Linked DNA regions of Homo sapiens: region 1 is linked to region 2. The links come from fine-mapping of genetic effects on gene expression. A gene starts in region 2. The other region holds a variant in brackets. All regions are shown on one strand. Distances are between the middles of the regions. Region 1 overlaps PAN3 (poly(A) specific ribonuclease subunit PAN3). Region 2 holds the start of PAN3 (poly(A) specific ribonuclease subunit PAN3).

What was found. PIP is the estimated chance that this variant, and not a neighbour inherited with it, causes the effect. A credible set is the group of variants that fine-mapping cannot tell apart.
Region 1: its variant is the best candidate, but not a certain one, in a credible set for the expression of PAN3 in whole blood (TOPMed, PIP 0.88).

What each region holds. Positions count from the first base shown.
Region 1 is chr13:28,280,993-28,286,215 of GRCh38, forward strand. PAN3 (poly(A) specific ribonuclease subunit PAN3) reads left to right here. Exons shown (of 19, transcript NM_175854.8): 17 at 323-387. It overlaps LOC124903140 (a long non-coding RNA gene), which reads right to left. Exons shown (of 2, transcript XR_007063735.1): 1 at 1,363-5,223. Among named protein-coding and RNA genes, the nearest start is that of PAN3-AS1, 140 kb to the left of the region's middle. The variant A/G (reference allele first, on the strand shown) is at 2,093.
Region 2 is chr13:28,135,409-28,140,631 of GRCh38, forward strand. It overlaps PAN3 (poly(A) specific ribonuclease subunit PAN3), which reads left to right and starts at 3,137. Exons shown (of 19, transcript NM_175854.8): 1 at 3,137-3,679. The coding sequence starts at 3,250. PAN3-AS1 (PAN3 antisense RNA 1) reads right to left here and starts at 3,766. Exons shown (of 2, transcript NR_029383.1): 1 at 3,139-3,766; 2 at 1,435-2,997. RefSeq lists silencers at 2,982-3,091, 3,282-3,361, 3,402-3,801 and an enhancer at 3,884-4,178.

The DNA of each region.
Region 1 (5,223 bases), 150 kb after region 2:
TTGGTATTTTAATTTCTTATGTCCTCTGGACAACACTGTTCTTTTCATTCATGGCTTTGCTACAGTCATGTGACAAAAATCTTGGTTTTTCATGTGAGTTACTTTTCCAATTCCTATGGACAGCTCCATAATCTTCTTGAGTACCATTATGAAATGAAATGGACATATTGTGTTTGTTTAAAAGTATAACCAAAAGGTGGGGATGTTAGGATTTATTGTTTAAAGGTAATATTGGTACAGGTTACCAGTTTTTGTAAATTTTGGCTTTTATGTTCAGTTATCTGGAACATTAACATTTTTCTCTTTTTAAAATGTTTTATAGGAGGTTCAAAATGGAAGACTGTTTAGGCTCCTAGCAAAATTGGGAACAATCAATGAGAGGCCGGAGTAAGGATTTACAGTATTTTACAATATATTTTTAATCGAGAGCACTATTTTGCATAATAAGAATAAGTATGCCTGGCTTTATTTGGAAAAAGAGAAAAATTCTCATGTGAAGTGACCTTAAGATTGTGTTAGCTGTTAAGGTGCTATTTTTAACAACAGCCTAGGTGTGGCTGTCCTTACGAATTTTACACACATGTATACACACAGAAAATATGGTGTGTTAGAAATCTCTTGTGGTTTGCACATGAGGGCACATTTTATGACTAATACTACCTCTACCCTATCTTCTTTTTGAGGAAGAAGTTTCATGTAAGTTTACCCTGGTCAGTTTAGAGACTTGAGAAATCTCTAATTTTTGCATGCCTCTTACCTTCTATTAAAGCACACTTTTTTTTTTTTTTTTTTTTCTTGAGACGGAGTCTCCCTCTGTCGCCAGGCTGGAGTGCAGTGGCACAATCTCGGCTGACTGCAACCTCTGCCTCCCAGGTTCAAGCGATTCTCCTGCTTCAGCCTCCCAAGTAGCTGGGACTACAGGTGTGCACCACCATACCCAGCTAATTTTTGTATTTTTAGTGGAGATAGGGTTTCACCATGTTGGCCAGGGTGGTCTGGTCTTGAACTCCTGACTTCAGGTGATCCACCTGCCTTGGCCTCCCAAAGTGCTGGGATTACAGGCATGAGCCACCACGCCTGGCCTAAAGTATACTTTTTATAGCCATCATATAAGTGACATTGGAAAGGCATTACCTTTTACACTATTTGTCACTTAGTTCCACCTCATTTGTAAGTTAATGTTAACCATATATACATAAGCAGAGTCGATGTTTGTACTACATAACTGTCAAAGACAGGTAGAACAGAATTTGCAATTACTATGACTATATACGTAAGTTACATTTCAGGAATGTTTGATTTGTTAATAGAGATAGGTGAGAGATAAATACTATTACTTGAGGGGTTGTTTTTTTTTTTTACCATGGAATTCAAGTCCACTTGCTTTTCTTCAAAGTCGAAAGACTCATTTAGTGTCTTCCCTAATAATTTTTCTAAGTGAAGAGAACATAACAATATATGTTAAACCATTTTTAATAAACTTTTAGCTGTTTCTTCTAGCATTTATCTCTTTACTTTAAAATGTCTGCTTATAGTTCTATTCTTGATTCCCCCAATATATAATTCAGCTAATGACTCATCCTCTTCCCTACACACGTGCACGCACGTGCACACACACATGCACACATGAGTTGAATCTGTATTTAGTGTTACAAAACACCTCTCCCATGCGGTCAAAAATAGGTAACCTATCAGTTCCTTTTTTTCCCTCCCACCTAGAGAATTGGCTCTGGATCCTCTGCACTTCCTGTTCCTATCTGGGCTGGTTATGCTTTAAGCCTGCACGTGCTTACACTTTAGAACTGGAACTTCCCTTCAGTATTATCTGGGAATTCTCATTATCTCTCTGTGTTGGATACCCTGTTTTCTTGCTTTATTCCTTGGTTTGTTTATTTATTTATTTATTTATTTATTTTGACTTAATGGAGCATGTCCTTGTAGCTTCCTGAAAAAGGTGAGTTTTTTTAGTCTTGCAAGTTTGAAAATGGCATTATTCTACTTTCACACATTATTGATACTGTGAATGCATACTAAATTCTAGATTGTCCTCAGAAAATTTTTCCTTTTTTTTTTTGAGAGGGAATCTCGCTCT[A/G]TCCCCCAGGCTGGAGTGCAATGGCGCATTCTTGGCTCTCTGCAACCCTCGCCTCCCAGGATCAAGCGATTCTCCTGCCTCAGCTTCCAGTGTAGCTGGGATTACAGGCGCATGCCACCATGCCCAGCTAATTTTTGTATTTTTGGTAGAGACAGGGTTTCACCATGTTGTCCAAGCTGGTCTCGAACTCCTGACCTCAGGTGATCCACCTGCCTCAGCCTTCCAAAGTGCTAGGATTACAGGCATGAGTCACTGTGCCCAGCCAGGAAATTATTCTTATTAATTAAATTTTTTAAATAGGTTGTCTATGAATAAAGTAAAAAGTAGGAAAAGTTTGCAGTGAAAACTGTAAAAGTCTCTCTTTCATACCTGACATCCCCAATATCTATTCCCAGTTTCCCCCATCAGTCTATATTTTTAGTTTCTTCTGTATTATTCCAGAGTTACAAATACAACTATATATTCTTATCCCCTCCCCCTTTAAATATATAAAAATTGTAAACCATACACAGTATATTTTATCATAACAGCGTGTTTTAGAAATCTTTCTATTTAGATATGTTTAGTATATGCCAAGCACTATTCAAAATAGTTTACAAATATGACCTGACTTATTCCTCATAACAACCCTATGATGGAGTTACCATTGTTATTCCTATTTAACAGAGTAATTGCAGCATAGAGAGGTTAAATAACTTGAACAAAGGTTGCGTAATTAATAAGTATATGATCCAGGACTCCAGTCTAGACAGTATGGTTCCAGAGTGTGTGCTCCTAACCACTATGCTATGTGTCTCCTCATACTTTAATGGCCTGGTAGTAGTTTATCCTATGGATGTGTTATAGTTTATTCCCCAGTTCCCTATAGGTGGGCATTTGGGCTGTTTTCAGTCCTTTGCTAGGGTGGGCGGTACTGTAGGGACTAACTTGTGCATACTTAATCTTATATATATGTAAATATAGGCCAATTGTGATTGCTAGGTCAGTAGGTGTGCCACTATAATTTCATAGCTATTGGAGAATAGTTTACCCATGTGTGTAATTCGTGAGACTGCCTCACCAAAATACTTTTTTCAAACTCTTAGATTTTTGTCAACCTTGTAGGTGAAAAATTGAATTTAAATGCAGTTTTATGTTCTATGTACTCTTAACAAGCATGTTTGAGGGTCTGTTTTATGCTATTGATCCATTCTTATGTCCTGTTCAATTCATATCCTTTGCCCATTTTTATTTTCAATTGGATTGCTTGTCTTTCTTATTGATATATAAGAGCTAAAGAGATTCACTCTTTTTGTGATTTTTTTTTTTTTTTTGACTGCTCATTCCCCACCCTTGGAGACATTTGTATATGTCTGTAACTGACCAAATTTCTTCTTTGCTTCTGGATTTTGAATCATAGTTAGAAAGCCTCTTTCTACTCCAAGATTATGAAGGAACTATTTCATGGTTTTTTCCAGAACATTTGTGGTTTCATTTCTTCATATTAAAAATGTTTTATGTGGTTAGAAATTGTATAGGGTGTAAGGTGTAAGTCCATCTCCCCTTGTCCCCAAGACTACCTAGTAGTCCAAAAGCTGTTTATTGAATAGTCGAACAATCTAGCTTTTCCCCACTGGTTTTTGAAGCCACACCTCTTCCATACTATTTTAATTCAATCATGAAATTGAATTTTGAAATCTAGCAGTATTCTTTCCCATCTCCATTTCATTGGGCACCACTTTGTTGTTTTCCTAATACTATTAAATTTTCTGTACAAATTCTAGAATCAGCTTCTTTAGTTAAAAAAAAATCAATAAACCTGATGGTTTCTTCATAGGGAAGATAGCATATTTATCGTGTTTAAACTCTGGGAACATTTGTGATTTTAGATGTTGAGTCATCGTAACCAAGATCATGGTATGTCATTCTATTTGTTGATGTCTACTTTTGTATTCTTCAGTAGTATTTAAGTTGTTCTTTATATAGTTATAGCAATACTGAGTGTATTCTTAGGTATTTCATCTTGTTGCTATTATAAGTGGGAAAATTTCCCCCATTCTGTCTTCTTGTTACTGGTATATATGAGAATTCTTGATTTCTTTAAATTTTATGCTCTGGTACCTTATTGTTTGGGTCGTTTTCAGTAAATTCTCTTTGAGTTTCCCAGGTGTTATCTGCAAATAATGATAGTTTCCTTCCCAGTTTCTATACTTTTAATTTCTCTTGAGTGGTTGTGTTAGCGGGTACTTTCAGTACATAGGTAAGTACTAGTGATGATAGTTCAGAATTTGAAGCATTGTTCCTTTTAACTTCCAGGCAGATTCAAAGGCATTTTCTTTATAAATCCTTTCCTTCCTCCAAGCTTTTGGGTTTTGTTTGTTTGTTTGTTTGTTTGTTTAGTCACTGATGTTCAGAAATTCACAGTGATGTTCCTTGGTGTAGGTTTTGAGTCATAATGATGGATTAACAGGTGAACCCCTTTAATCTTGGAAACTTAACGTCCTTCAGTTCTGGGACATGGTCTTCATTGTTTCTTTAATAACTTCTTGTCCTGGAATTCTCATCGCTCAGATGTTAGACCTTTGCAATTGATTTTCAAATATTCTCTTCTATTTTCTATCTCTAATTTTTTTTGTTCTACTTTCTGGGCAGTTATCTCAACTGCATTTTTCTAAAATTAAAGTTTTTTTTCTAATTCTTTGAATTTTTAAATTTCTGCTATCATATTTTTATTTTCCAAGAACAATTCTGTTTTCTGAATGTTTGTCTTGTACCATCTAATTCTTGTTTCTCTGAGGCCGTCAGTTAATAGATTTTTGCTGGTGGTTGGTTTTTGTTTGTCTTAGTTTTAAGTTTTGTTCCATTCCCTGCAGTATCTCATAGGAAACAAGAGTTTGCTTTATTTTGTTTTGTTTTGTAACAAAAGATTTCTGATACTTAGCTGTCCATTTGTATTAAAAATAAGGTCCTAAAAAGCCAATGGGAAGCCTTTGTGAGGGCAGGGATTATAGAATGTTGAACCTTTCTCTGTGATAAAGCAGTGTGATGTTGTTATACATGATTTTTGTTTGTTTTTGATAGACTGTCAAGGATTATCATTTGTCTTGGACAGGTCAGCATCCCCTGAAAAGAATCTTCCAACCTCTACTGTC
Region 2 (5,223 bases):
AATTTATGGATTATTTGCAGTTTTGGATGTAATCTTCATTAACATGAAAATAACTTAGAGTTGACTACATATTTATTTTTAGTAAAGGAATACTCAACAATGAACCCTGCTTAAAAAGACAACCCTACTATAGGAATAAGTAGTTGTCTCCTAAAAAAGTGTGGAGATATGAAATGTGTGGCAAATAAGTTTATTTTTTATTTATTGACCGAGAGGGTCTCACTGCTGTGCAGGTTGGCATAAAATGGCGCCTTCAAAGCTCACTGCATCCTGGAACTCCTGAGCCCAAATGATCCTCTGCCTCAGCCTCCCCAGTAGCTAGGACTATAGGCAAGTGCCTCTACACCTGGCTAATTTTTAAATTGTTTTGTATAGACAGGGTCTTGCTAGTTTTCCCAAGAGGGTCTTGAACTCCCGGCCTCAAGTGATCCTCTTGCCTTGGCTTCCTTCCAAAGCAGTGAGGTTAGAGGTGTGAGCCACTGTGCCCTGCCATGTTGACTTTTAAAAACCCTGTAATAACTTCCAATTGTCCTCAAGAAAAAGTTCAATTCTTTTTTTTTTTTTTGAGATGGAGCCTTGCTCTGTCGCCCAGGCTAGAGTGCAGTGGTGCGATCTCACTGCAACCTCTGCCTCCCGGGTTCAAGCAATTCTTCTGTCTCAGCCTCCCGAGTAGGTGAGATTACAGGTGCCTGCTACCACACCCAGCTAATTTTTGTATTTTTAGCAGAGACGGGGGTTTCACCATGTTGGCCAGGCTGGTCTTGAACTCCTGACCTCGTGATCTGCTCGCCTCAGCCTCCCAAAGTGCTGGGATTACAGGCGTGAGCCACTGCGCCTGGCCAAAAGTTCAATTCTTTAACATGGCCCTACAAGGACTTTTGTGGACTCTGCTCCATTTTCCACTATCACTGTATTCTAACAATAAAAGCTGTTTGCCTAGAATGCTCTTTGACTATACACTGACTACCACTAGCAGCAATACTACTTTTTTTTCGAGATGGAGTCTCGCTCTGTCGCCCAGGCTGGCGTGCAATGACGAGATCTCGGCTCACTGCAACCTCTGCTTCCCAGGTTCAAGTGATTCTTATGTCTCAGCCTCCCCAGTAGCTGGGATCACAGGCGCTCGCCACCACGCCCAGTAATTTTTTTGTATTTTTGTAGAGACGGTGTTTTACCAGGTTGGCCAGACTGGTCTCGAACTCCTGATCTCAGGTGATCCACCCGCCTTGGCCTCCCAAAGTGCTGGGATTACAGGCGTGAGCCACTGCGCCTGGCCAATACTATTAATAATAGTTACAACCTACCGAATTCTTATTAGGCATGGGACAGTTTATATACATTATTAGTTATACTTTATGAAGTAGGTACTATTCTTAATCCAGGTGTACAGACAAGGCACAGAGAAATGAAGCAATTAACTGAGAGGAACACAGCTATTAAAGTGTAGGCACTTTAATCTGTTTCAATCCAGATCTGTCTGAATTCAATGATGTTCCCAAACTTGGAACATGAAAATATCAACTTTCTCCAAGAAGTCTGACATGTTTAATATCCTCTAATAGCAAATGTGATAAGGTTAGCACTTAAGACACTGGTTTACAACGGACCTGTGTACTTGATGCCTCCCCAACCGGAAGATAAGCCATCTGAACTCACTTAAGGCGGCATGTTCACTTTTGCTTCCCCAGCTCCACAGTTAAGTGTACCACAGTTTCTGGTACACGTAATGCGTGTTAATAAAGATTTGTTGAATAATCAAATAAGCGAAACTGCTTTTAAACAGAAAGCCATAATACAATGTTATTACCTTCGAATTTGGCTAGAGAACATCACCAAGCTTACCAGTTTGTGATCTAGACTCCACTTTTCCCCATTTTTTTCAGTGTGCTACTTTTGCTTATATCCATTCTTCTGTGACTTTGTTTGCCACAATTCCTTAAATACTTCCACCCCTCCTTTTCATAACAGCGATCTGCCGTTTGTGAACCTCTTTTACAGAGAAAAACTAGAATGTTACTTTTCCTTTCATAGCAATTCTTTAAAATTTCTGAAAGCCTTTAAAAGGGTATTAGCGCAAACATCAGAGATCGCTGAGGTTAAAACTATCTTTTAAAAATGAATTTCACCGTCTCAAAAAAAATAAAAATGAATTTCAAATCAAGGCTAGGCTGATTGGAGAAAAGCAACCTAGTATATTTATAAAGGTCTTCCAGTGCTGTCTAAGCAGTGTTGTCCCAGGTGGCATCCTATTTTTCATAATTTACCGAAGGCCCTTGGTAATATAAATACAGAGAATAACAGGTGCTGCACTGAGCAGGGGGTCTGTCTAAATCAACCTTTTTGGCTCCATTTTTTGACAAAGGGCCAAGAGGTTAGCGTAATCGGTCCAGTAGTTCTCATTACCTTCGAGGGGAAGGGGAAAGAGGAGAGGGGCGAAGAAAGGAAACGGGGAGAGGAAGTGTGGCAAATAGAAGATATTCTTCAGGTAGAGCCAGGGCTCGGGCCGCGTCCCCAGGTGGCCCCTCCAAACGACCGTTTACCTTGTCAATTTTCTCTTTTCAATGAAAAAAAAAAAAAAGACATCTGGCTTTTTAAGTAAGAGAATATACAAATAAGGAAGGTATCAGGTCTCGTGAGAATTCGGCGCCAGATCCGCGTCCGGAACCCCACCGAGAGCCGCCGGTCCAACCGCCGATAGCTCGCGGATGCCCCCGGGGGCCCGACGCCGGCCAGGCTTCCCCTAGCGCTCCCGCTACCCATAAGCCCTCGCGTCTCAGCGCGCACGCGCAGCGGCGACGGCCGTCTCAGGAAGAGGAAAATGGAATAAACAACTCGGAGGAACCAGAGCGCGAGAGAGCGAGTGGAGGCAGAATTTAAAAATAAACCGGCCCCTCCGCCTTCCCCACCCGCTTGCCGCTGCCGCTCCCTCTTCCCCTGCCCGCGCCCTCGAAGTCCCCGTCTGGGCCCGCGCGCTCACCCCGTCGTCCCGCGCGGCCCCTTTAAGAAAAGAGAACGAGAGAGTGAGTGAGAGAATCCCAACTCTCCCCCTACCCTCCCTCCTTCTACCCCCTCCTCCCTCCCCTCTCCCCTCCCCCTTCTCCCCGGGCGGCTCCGGCTCCCGCAGCGGGACAGACCCACCCGCCCAGGCTTTTATCCGGCACCGGCAGCGTCTTCCTTTCCTCCCCCGTCTATGGTGGTGGCGGCGGCGGCTCCTCGGGCGGCGGCGGAAGACGAGGCTGCGGCGTTGCCATGAACAGTGGCGGCGGCCTCCCGCCCCCCTCGGCCGCCGCCTCCCCTTCCTCCTCCTCGCTGGCGGCGGCGGTGGCGGTGGTGGCCCCGCCGGGGGTCGGGGGTGTCCCCGGCGGGGCGGCGGTAGGAGTGAAGCTGAAGTACTGCCGCTACTACGCTAAGGATAAGACTTGCTTCTACGGGGAGGAGTGTCAGTTCCTGCATGAGGACCCTGCCGCCGGGGCTGCCCCGGGCCTCGGCCTCCATAGCAACAGCGTCCCCCTGGCTCTGGCTGGTGCACCCGTGGCCGGCTTTCCGCCGGGAGCCGTCGCGGGCGGGGGAGCTGGGCCGCCCCCCGGGCCCAAGAAGCCGGACCTGGGGGACCCGGGGACCGGAGCCGCAGCCGGCGGAGGAGGCAGTAGCGGGGGACTCGATGGACCGCGGCTGGCAAGTGAGTGTTTTTCGGGCGGGGCGGGCCGCGGCGGCGGAGGGCAGGCCTGGGCCGGATGAGGCCCTGCTGCCGACGGGAGCTGAGCACGGCCCGCGGGCTCCCCCCCTCACCTCCCAAGGCGGTCTGAGAGGCCTAGGCCGGGCCTGAGCCCTCCTTCCTTCTTCCTGCTTCCCCTCCCCACTGCCTTCGGCAAGTCGGAGAGCGCGGGGAGGTTGGGTTCCCGGGAACGTGGGTGGGAGGACTGGGGTGATGTGAAGGGGGGGCGGGGAGGAAGGGGGATGGGCTGTGGCGTGCGGAGTGTGAGAAAGGGGGTGTCGTTTCCGGGGGGTGTGGAAAGGGGCTGGGTTTGCAGGCACATGTGTTTTGCGTGTCCTTGTGGAGTGGCGTCTGCAGAGTGTTGAGGTTCCCTAGTGGGGAGGGGTGTGTTTGTGTGTGTGTGTGTGTGTGTGTGTGTGTGTGTGTGTAGGGGGCGGGAGGTGAGGGGCGGGCTTAAGGCTTCGTGGAGTAGGTTGAAAGAACGGAAAAAGTTTGTAGAAGGCTTGCGGGAGAAAGGTTTTGCAGGCAGGAAATGCTTTCTAAGGATTAGGAGGGAGCGGACTGTCGCGTTCAAAGTGTGCTCAGGTTTAATCGAGAGTTTAGAGTAGGGATTTCACAAAGACGCATTTCATCTGAGTTTCCCTGAAAGCTAGAATAAGTTTGCTGGTGTCAGCTGGGATCCTGTCTTCTATAGCTTTGTATCAAGCAAACTCAGCATTGTGTCTTGAATGCATGTCATGTGCAGCCTGCGTTTATGTGCGACTGAGCACTTGGGTGGGGACATCTTAAGGCTGTTTATATTTCTTTTTCATGTGTTGTTGTTGTTGTTGTTGTTGTTGTTTTGGAGAGAGTCTCGCCCTGTCGCTCAGGCTGGAGTGCAGTTGCGCGATCTCAGCTCACTGCAACCTCCGCCTCCCGAGTTCAAGCGATTCTGTTGCCTCTGCCTACGGAGTAGCTGGGACTACAGGCGCGCGCCACCACGGCCAGATAATTTTTTGTAGTTTTAGTTGAGATAGTAGTCTCGTTGTGTTGGCCAGGCTGGTCTCAAACTGCTGGCCTCAAGTGATCTGTCCTCCTCAGCCTCTCAGTGTGTTGTTATCTATTGACCTGAAGCTTGTTAGTTGTTAGTGGAGTTTACAATTGAATGTGAGCGTAATCTGTTAGAGAATGTTGCCTTTACGAATAGAGCCGGTGCCAGATGTCCCTGTTTTGTTTCTTAGTATATTGAGCGTTTCTAAACCAAATAGGAGTCCTACTTTCTTGGGAATTCTGGAGAACTAGATCTTAAAATAATCTGATAGGCAGTTCAATTTGTACATGAGAACATTTTGTCTTTTTCTTAAACACTGTTAATGAACCTGATAGGAAGTTTTAGCATTTAATTGGTCTATGAGGATTATTTAATATCTTCCCCGGGGTTTTGCTTTCTTGCTTTTTCTTTCGAGACGGGATCTTCCTATGTTGCCCAAGCTGGCCTGGAACTCCTGGGCTCAAGCGATCTTCCTGCC